Linked DNA regions of Homo sapiens. The protein of the gene in region 1 interacts with the protein of each later gene in a pairwise test. Each region holds a gene or a part of one and is shown on either strand. Other genes may lie near its edges. The genes, in order: TBX3 and PRR20C.

Region 1 (4,542 bases):
GTTTCCCTCCCGTCCGCCTAAGAGGAGGCCCCCACCCTACCCGTACTAAAAACAGTCAACTCGCCTCTGAGGTGGGGGCGTTTCACGGTTTGTTTTACAAATTCACCCTCCCTCCCCGACTTCTGGCCAGATTAAGTCCCCGGGGTGGAGAAAGAACTGAGGCACCGAGAGATAAGTGCGATGCCTAGAGAAGATACCAGGCTGGCGCGCCTCCCCCAACCCAATCGCCCACCCCTTACCCTGTGCTGTGCACCCAGCCGGGCCTCGAGGTGAGGGCAGCGGCTTGGAGGGGACAGGCTCAGAACCCAGTCTCTCGCTGTGCTCGCTTTGTCCAGATCCTCCATTCTCTTCTCTACACCCACACCCACATCCAGGTGGAATATGGGGGCCCGCATGCAAATGAAAGACGAGATCCAAAAGGGCTGGTAAATGCATTTCATAAAAATCCCAAATCCATCTTCCCCAGGAGCTCAGGCAGGGCCAGCCGCGCAGGCTGTGTACGTGTTTGTGTGTACGTGTTTTTCGGTGTGTGTTTCAGTCCCAGTGTGTTGGCGCGTGTTCGAGTACAGATACACCGGGGGTGTTTGGGTACCCGCACATGGCTGCGGGTGGGGCGCAGTGGAGAGGAAGCCCACACATGCGTGTGCTGAGATATGGCCGCATCCTTGTGCTCCCCCAGCCCAGACGCAGGGGAGACCAGCACCGAGACACCCGAGCTCGGGAGCCCTTCAGCGGCGGCCGGGCGGAGCTTGGCTCCACGTGGGGCTGGAGAGCACGCAAGCCTGGAGTCTCGGCGCTCGCTTCTCGGCTGCCGCCGGCTTTTGTAGAACCGAGTGGCCGGATGGCAGCTCGCGGGGAGGCTCGGCCACCCGCCCGGCTCGCCCGGGGCGGGGAGAAGAAGGAGAGCTGGAGAGAGAACCGGCCGCGGCGGTCGGAGAGGCGAGCGGAGTGCAAGAGAGGCGAGCGCCCCTGCCCGGCGCCCGGGCGCGCTCTCCGCCTTCCCCGCCCGGCTCGCCTGCTCGCTGGCTCCCTCCCTCTCTCCCTCCCCCTTCCTCCTTGGCCCTGCCTCCTCCCTCGATCCCCGGCTGGATGACTGAGGCATTTCAGACGTGGGCTGAACCAGAGCGAGCGAGCGAGCTCAGGGGCTGCAGCGATCTCTCGATAAGCCACCTAGAGGCGACTCTGTGCGCGCGCGCTCCCCAGTGGCTCCCGCCCGCCCTCTGATCATGTTGACATATTCACAGGACAGGCAGTAGTACCGATGCGGCGCTGCGACGTTACAGTTTCCGACACCTTCTTTTTATAACTCAGCTCTATCCCCCAGCACTCGACCTGTGAAAACCACGCCTATGCAGCAACACAATTGGTCCGAAAGCGTCAAAGAGCCAATCAAGAGGCCTCCGGCTCCCCGCAGCCCACAGCGCAGCCCGACCTTCTAGAGCCGCCGAGCAGACGCCCGGTGAATTCTAGAGGCGGCGGAGGGTGGCGAGGAGCTCTCGCTTTCTCTCGCTCCCTCCCTCTCCGACTCCGTCTCTCTCTCTCTCTCTCTCTCTCCCCTCCCTCTCTTTCCCTCTGTTCCATTTTTTCCCCCTCTAAATCCTCCCTGCCCTGCGCGCCTGGACACAGATTTAGGAAGCGAATTCGCTCACGTTTTAGGACAAGGAAGAGAGAGAGGCACGGGAGAAGAGCCCAGCAAGATTTGGATTGAAACCGAGACACCCTCCGGAGGCTCGGAGCAGAGGAAGGAGGAGGAGGGCGGCGAACGGAAGCCAGTTTGCAATTCAAGTTTTGATAGCGCTGGTAGAAGGGGGTTTAAATCAGATTTTTTTTTTTTTAAAGGAGAGAGACTTTTTCCGCTCTCTCGCTCCCTGTTAAAGCCGGGTCTAGCACAGCTGCAGACGCCACCAGCGAGAAAGAGGGAGAGGAAGACAGATAGGGGGCGGGGGAAGAAGAAAAAGAAAGGTAAAAAGTCTTCTAGGAGAACCTTTCACATTTGCAACAAAAGACCTAGGGGCTGGAGAGAGATTCCTGGGACGCAGGGCTGGAGTGTCTATTTCGAGCTCAGCGGCAGGGCTCGGGCGCGAGTCGAGACCCTGCTCGCTCCTCTCGCTTCTGAAACCGACGTTCAGGAGCGGCTTTTTAAAAACGCAAGGCACAAGGACGGTCACCCGCGCGACTATGTTTGCTGATTTTTCGCCTTGCCCTCTTTAAAAGCGGCCTCCCATTCTCCAAAAGACACTTCCCCTCCTCCCTTTGAAGTGCATTAGTTGTGATTTCTGCCTCCTTTTCTTTTTTCTTTCTTTTTTGTTTTGCTTTTTCCCCCCTTTTGAATTATGTGCTGCTGTTAAACAACAACAAAAAAACAACAAAACACAGCAGCTGCGGACTTGTCCCCGGCTGGAGCCCAGCGCCCCGCCTGGAGTGGATGAGCCTCTCCATGAGAGATCCGGTCATTCCTGGGACAAGCATGGCCTACCATCCGTTCCTACCTCACCGGGCGCCGGACTTCGCCATGAGCGCGGTGCTGGGTCACCAGCCGCCGTTCTTCCCCGCGCTGACGCTGCCTCCCAACGGCGCGGCGGCGCTCTCGCTGCCGGGCGCCCTGGCCAAGCCGATCATGGATCAATTGGTGGGGGCGGCCGAGACCGGCATCCCGTTCTCCTCCCTGGGGCCCCAGGCGCATCTGAGGCCTTTGAAGACCATGGAGCCCGAAGAAGAGGTGGAGGACGACCCCAAGGTGCACCTGGAGGCTAAAGAACTTTGGGATCAGTTTCACAAGCGGGGCACCGAGATGGTCATTACCAAGTCGGGAAGGTAAGCAGTGGGGGCCTCCTCCCCTAAGCTGTTGGAGAGTTTTTTCCTCCCTTTATTTCTCTGCTCCCAGAACAGTCGGTTGGTCGGTTATTACGGCTTGGACGAAAAGTTAGTTCCCCTAGAAATGTATGCACAGACTTCCAGGCCCTGCCCCGGTGGCAGGAAATTTCAGCTTACCTGGGCATCTGCATGGGTCTTGCATTTGGTCTGCATCCTGGGTTCCCTCCCGAACAGACAGAATTTTTCAGTGGAGCACAGACATCCCTGCAGGGAGCAGGAAAGAAAAAAAAAAAAGGCACTCTACTGCAAGAAACTCACTCTTCAAACCCTCCTGGAACATCCTTATTTCTTTGTTGATGTTGTGTTGTCTGTTTTATTTTGTTCTCAGAGAGAAAAACTTAAAGCCCTTTCCTTTTGTGTGGGTATTGGGAGGCCTGACACCATTCCCCGGCCCTTTCTGCCCTCCAGTCTAGCCTCTGGGTCTAAAGGGGCCTGCTGCTGCCCTGGTCAGAGAGAAATCGAAGGGCATTTTGGTTTGTTTGCCCACACTACTTCACGTGTCTGTAACCCAAGGGCGAGTTCAGCAGGCAATTTTGCATAATTTAAGATTATGTTTGCAGACTTAAGGAGCCAGTGAGGAGACACACACCTTTTTTTTAATGTGTGAATATTATCAACCATATTTTACATAATGTTTAAAGGTCCTTGCCTGACCAAAACCTGCCTGGAAGAGAAGATCCTGTAATAGTCATTTAAAATCACTGATTTTTTTTTTGTAATAGCATTGAAGCCTGTAAAGGCATAAAGTTGATACAAAAATAAAATCCCCTTCATGATATCTTAAGCGTTCTGTCTCCTTCCAAGCTAAATGAGGCCAAAGTTTGGCATAAAATCCTCCTCAAACTCACAAGACATTTAGTCAGTTTTCCAGCAAAGTGCTTCCTTGCTTCCTTTTAAGTCAAGACTACAGAATGCCAACCCTTCTGTGAAATTAACAGCAATGTGGTGGCACAGTCTTGCGGTTTTGGACTGGCCTAAGAAGTGGGGGAATGTGTTAGCAGCTCCACGGGCAGATCGGTTATCAGGCCCAGGAGTGCACCGAAGTCTGCAAAATTCGTTCTGGGAACTCACTGAAGTCCAGTTTCACTTCGCCCACAGCGGGATTGCTATTCTGCAGCAGGGAGGGGTGCAACTTGACGTTCATTTCCTTGATAAGTTTAACATTTTCTCATCAATGGGTGGTGGAAAATTCTAGTCTTAACTGACCGCGCTTTACAAAAATCTTACCCCAACCTGTTTAGATCTAGATACCCACAGAAAAAGACATGGGCAAGAATTTGCTCTCAGGAGGGCAATCTGTAAAGTCAAGCAAGGACAAAAAAAATATTGAAGAAATTGTTAGACAATGTAGAGAATTGCAGTGCCACAATGCATTTGTTTTGAACCTTGGGACGTCTAAATATGGCGAAACTGAGAATATTTAATACGTTAGTTGTGGAAGAAAACGATTTTGCAACCAGTTGCCTCACTCTGAAACATGTAAGCTTATCAGTCACAATATAAAGTCTTAGACTTGGTTTCAATATTATGTGATACATAGGAAATCAAACCCAAGATTACGGGTGGTTTATCTTTCTTTTTCTTTTCTATTCTTTCGTTTTATAGGCGAATGTTTCCTCCATTTAAAGTGAGATGTTCTGGGCTGGATAAAAAAGCCAAATACATTTT
Region 2 (4,310 bases), on another chromosome or scaffold:
TATCAAACTCTGAAAAGATGGGAACTAACTCAACTTAAACATCTAAGAGACACCTACAGCCAACATCTTGGTTAATGGTGAAACATTCAAAATATTCCCATTAAAGCCAGGAGGAAGCCAAGGACACTGCCGTCAAATTACTGATTCCTGGTTTAGCGGTTCCAGTGAGTCATGCACTCTCCTTGCTTCCGTTAACCGCCCCCCCCCCCACCCCAACACCTTTTGTCTGATTCGTCACATGTCCTTTGATCCCCTTTTTCCTCAATCTGTTTGAAATTTTACCTTCTATTCCAATTCATTTAGTGGTTCCCAAAGGGTACCCACGTTGAGACTTAAAAATGTGTCAGTCTAGATTTTTATTGCTCTTATATTCAGCCAGTCTATCGTCTCCAGGCACTAGAGAAGCACTTTAGTAACTTCTAGCTCCTTCTGAGTTTTCGCATGTCCCACATGTCTATATGAGTGTCTTCTGGAATTTTAATTCTAGGTCATCAATCCTTTTTCCAGAATCGTACTTCTCTGGACTTAAGAATACAGTTTCCTAATTTCCATGCTTAGTGATCCTTGTTGCATCCCACTTCTTCCAGGTTGTCTGGGTTGGCTTCTTCTTGGCTGAAAAACGTGACGTGTACTTTCACTGTACATGACAGTTCCATTCCAATCGCCTTGTACAGAAAGGGTGTTTGGCAGCTTGCATGTTGTAAGTTGCGTACTCCAAGTTCAGGGGAAGCTCAGGCTTCAGGTCCAGTCGGGGGAGGAGTGGAGCAGAAGTGGGGCTGGGGGGAACGTCCAGGTGGAAGGAAGGGAGGCTGGGAACAACGTGGGTGGCAGATAGTGGTCAATACGCAATGTCGGTGAGGAACACTGGGACCCCTTGCACGTAGGTGCCCTGGGGGGTTTGAATGACTTGTAAAACCGCTGAGTCACCCAGAGCCCTAAACCCGATGCAGGGATAGAGGGTCAAGACGGGTTGCCAGTCAACAGCCTGAGGCCCAGGAGCAGCGGGCGGCTCCTGAAACCCCAGCTCAGGTTGCGCCACGTCGGGGCCAGGGCCTTCCTGCACAGTTCCAGGCGGAGGACCTGTTTCAGAAAGGGAGAAGGCTGCGGTCTCCGTGATTTCCGGTTCCCCCTGGTGGCCTGGCTCTCCATGGTGGTCCAGTTGGATGTGCACGTCCGGTGCCATCAAGCCTTCTGCCCCCTGTCTCTGGCCAGCGTCCCCGCGGGGCCCAGCCCTTCTGCCACGGCCTCGCCCTGGCCGCCGGCTTCCTCCCCGGCGCCGGCCTCTCTCTGCAGGAGGGGGTGACTCTGGGCGAGCTGGGGGCTGCCGTCTGAAGGGTTTCACGTAAGCGATGGGTTTTGCGGGTTGGGCTGGCTGTGCGGGCCCATCTGCTTCCACGGAGCCTTCAGGGTCCGCAACACAGCAGCCTGGCTCTGGAGGAGGCCCACCTGAGGCTAAAAGAGAAGCGGAGCGTGAGCAGAGAGAGACAGAAGGAACTTCACCCGTCAAGCAGTTATAGGATACTTTTACAAATAAATACTCAGAGAAAAGAGGGATTTCTGAAGTTAAAATTGTGAGAGAAGAAACAAAACTCTCCACGGAAGTTGGAGAATGAAGTTGAGAAGGTCTCCCACAGAACAAAGCAAAAACCTAAAATGATGGAAAGAAGGATGAAATATAAGAGAATTAGAGGTATGCTGTGGCTGAGACATTTCACCAGAAAATTTCAGAGTGCTGAGGAAAAAGAGAAGATTCTAACAGATTCTAGAGAGCGGGAGACAGAGAAAGGAAAAGTCACATGGAAAGGGCTAGGATTCCACATGTCTCAAAAGTCAGACATCTCAAAAGCAGCAGTTCAGTCTAGAACATAACAGAAAATGTCTTCGAAATTTCAAGGGAAATGAATTTCCCACCTAAAATTTCCTGTCCAACCGAAGTTTCGCTGAAGAATCTGGGAGGGGAGAATGAAGATGTTTCAGACAAGCAAGATGTTAAAGAATTTCCTTTCAGTGGATGCTTTATTGTTATGCATCTGTCAAACTAGACAAGATTAAAAGATTTAGGACACTCAGCGTATGAAGGGAAAAGTTTTGGAGAACAACGTGGCAACAGCCGGAAAATTCCAACTCCTCCGGGAAAGAACAAGGTGGAAGTACCGGTTTATCATAGATCAAGACGTAGCGTGAGGACTCGCTCTGCTACGGAGAAACAGTAATACAAAACTAAACAGAAGGAAACAGCGACAACAACAGCAAATCTCAGATTTGGGAAATGGGATTACGGTTCGGAAGAGGGAAAGGAATTTCCCAGATGATGTGGAACCCGGGAGCTGACTTCCAACAAGCAGCCCAGGTTGAGGCAGGCTAGGAGAAGGTGAAACAGAGAATGCTTGATTGAGTTTGAGTGTCAACCATTGGGGAAGAATTGGGGAACAGACGAAATTAAAAAGAGAGGAGTGGCAGGCGTTTGATGTACCTTGATTAGGGGCCATGGAGCGAAGTCGCTTCGAAGGCCTTGGTTCCTCCATGAGCAATCGGCGGGAGGGGCTGGGGAGAAAAACAAGAGAGCAAGAACGGATTTAGGAAGACAGAGGTGACAAGGCAGGGGGATGGCCGTGGCCTTTCTAGGGGAATGAGGATTCTGTCCCCAACTGCACCCACCCGAGATCCGTCCACGCCTCCGGGACCCCCAGACACACACCTGATCTTCCCACAGCTGGCTCCGGAGATCTGAAAATTAGGAGACTCTTCGACGAAGAGAGGCCCGAGGAGTCGGAGGTGTCCACAGGTTCACCGCTGTAGCTCTGAGGTAGTCCACCCGCAGCCAGGGAGTCTGGAGGGAGCACGCAGCAGGTTCTGGCTCCGAGCCCAGCAGAAAGCCGACTGCTGGAGGCCGAGCGCCGTCCCTCTTATATGGCAGCAAGGCAGTCGCGTAAGGGACAGGCGTCGTCAGAGGGGGGCCGGCTGGGGCGGGCCTGGCTGGGCTTGCGAGGCGCATTGGGCCAGTCCCCTGCCAGTCAAATGGGGGCCCTTCTGAGATGCCGCCATTTCTAGACGTCCGTGGTTGATTGATTAATCTAATCATCGAGGAAAAAAAATTGCATAATGACCTCTGAGTGTCAGCACAATGAGGTGTGGTGCCCTGAAAGCGGCTGACAGGAAGATGCGATTAGCTTAGATCTGAGCATGGTCAAGGAAAGCATCCAAAGCGGGGATATCTGGGCTGAAATCTGGAACATAACGTTTGAAATTAGTCATCCTGAACCGGGTTGGGAGAGGCAGGGAGGGAGGAAGGGGAGTGAAGAGAGTGTGCTGAGGCCCGGACTGGAAGGGAGCCCGGCACATTCTGGGAATGGACGGGAGGCCAAGTCCAGGCCCGGAGGTGGTGCGAGGTGGAGGCAGGGTCCGCGCAGGAGCTGGTCTTGTTCCAAGGCAGCGGAAAACCGTGGAACGGTGTCCGGCAGCGGGTTAACATTTCAGAAACGACCAGCCTGGCTGTGAAGGAGCGCCAACCCAGGGTCCGCAGAATAAGTCAGGAGAGGCAAGAAGGCTATTGCAGCCCTCGGGGTTGGGCGCAGGGTGCTGTTAGACTGAGACTCAGGGAGGTAGAGGAGGAGAAAGTTCCCTGGTGGGAGAGAAATTTCCAAGAGAAAGCGAGACCCAGTGTGGACAGCCCTTGAGGAAGAGACTGCGGCCTTGGTAGCCCGCCGGTTCATTCAGGCAGAGGTGGACCGAGAACCTGCTCTGAACGGGAAGTTGCGGAGCTTGGCTTGCGCACATCTGGTTGAAGGGGCTTTTGAACTGCCAAGTGAGGATGTCAAGTGGCCTTTTGTAAAAAGAGTCGAGCTCAGCGCGATGGCGACGGGGCTGGAGATGCGTGTGAGACCCACACCGCTGGCTTTTATTGCTGTGGGTGCACTCACGGGTGGAGGAAGACAGCGGGAAACACAGCAGGACGCTGGAGGGGATCCCACAGTGGGTTATTTGGTTGGTTTGCATCCTTGTGTCTTTTACAGAGACGGGTTCTCGCTCTGTAGCCCAGGCTGGAGTGCAGCGGTGCCATCTCGGCTCGCTGCGGCTACTTGGGGGGGGGGGGGGGGGGGGCGGGGCGGGCTGAGATAGGAGAATCAGTTCAAGTGATTCTCCTGTCTCGGCCTCCGGAGTAGCTGGACTACAGGTGAGCGCCACCACATCGGGATAATTTTCGGATTTTTTTGGAGAGACGAGGTTTCGCTATGTGCCCAGGCTTGTTTGGAAGGCCTGAGCTCAAGCCGTCCGTCCCGCTCAACCTCCCGAGTCGCTGGGACCCCAGG

The links.
Region 2: the proteins of TBX3 (region 1) and PRR20C interact in a two-hybrid assay, tested with the Homo sapiens proteins (one large-scale study listed by BioGRID).

The regions. Positions count from the first base shown.
Region 1 is NC_000012.12:114,681,084-114,685,625, reverse strand, and holds the start of TBX3 (T-box transcription factor TBX3), read left to right. Parts: upstream 1-1,450; 5' UTR 1,451-2,425; coding exon 2,426-2,814; intron 2,815-2,991; exon of another isoform or gene 2,992-3,334; intron 3,335-4,479; coding exon 4,480-4,542.
Region 2 is NC_000013.11:57,152,663-57,156,972, reverse strand, and holds the start of PRR20C (proline-rich protein 20C), read right to left. Parts: upstream 2,913-4,310; 5' UTR 2,699-2,912; intron 2,545-2,698; 5' UTR 2,526-2,544; coding exon 2,474-2,525; intron 1,453-2,473; coding exon 839-1,452; 3' UTR 1-838.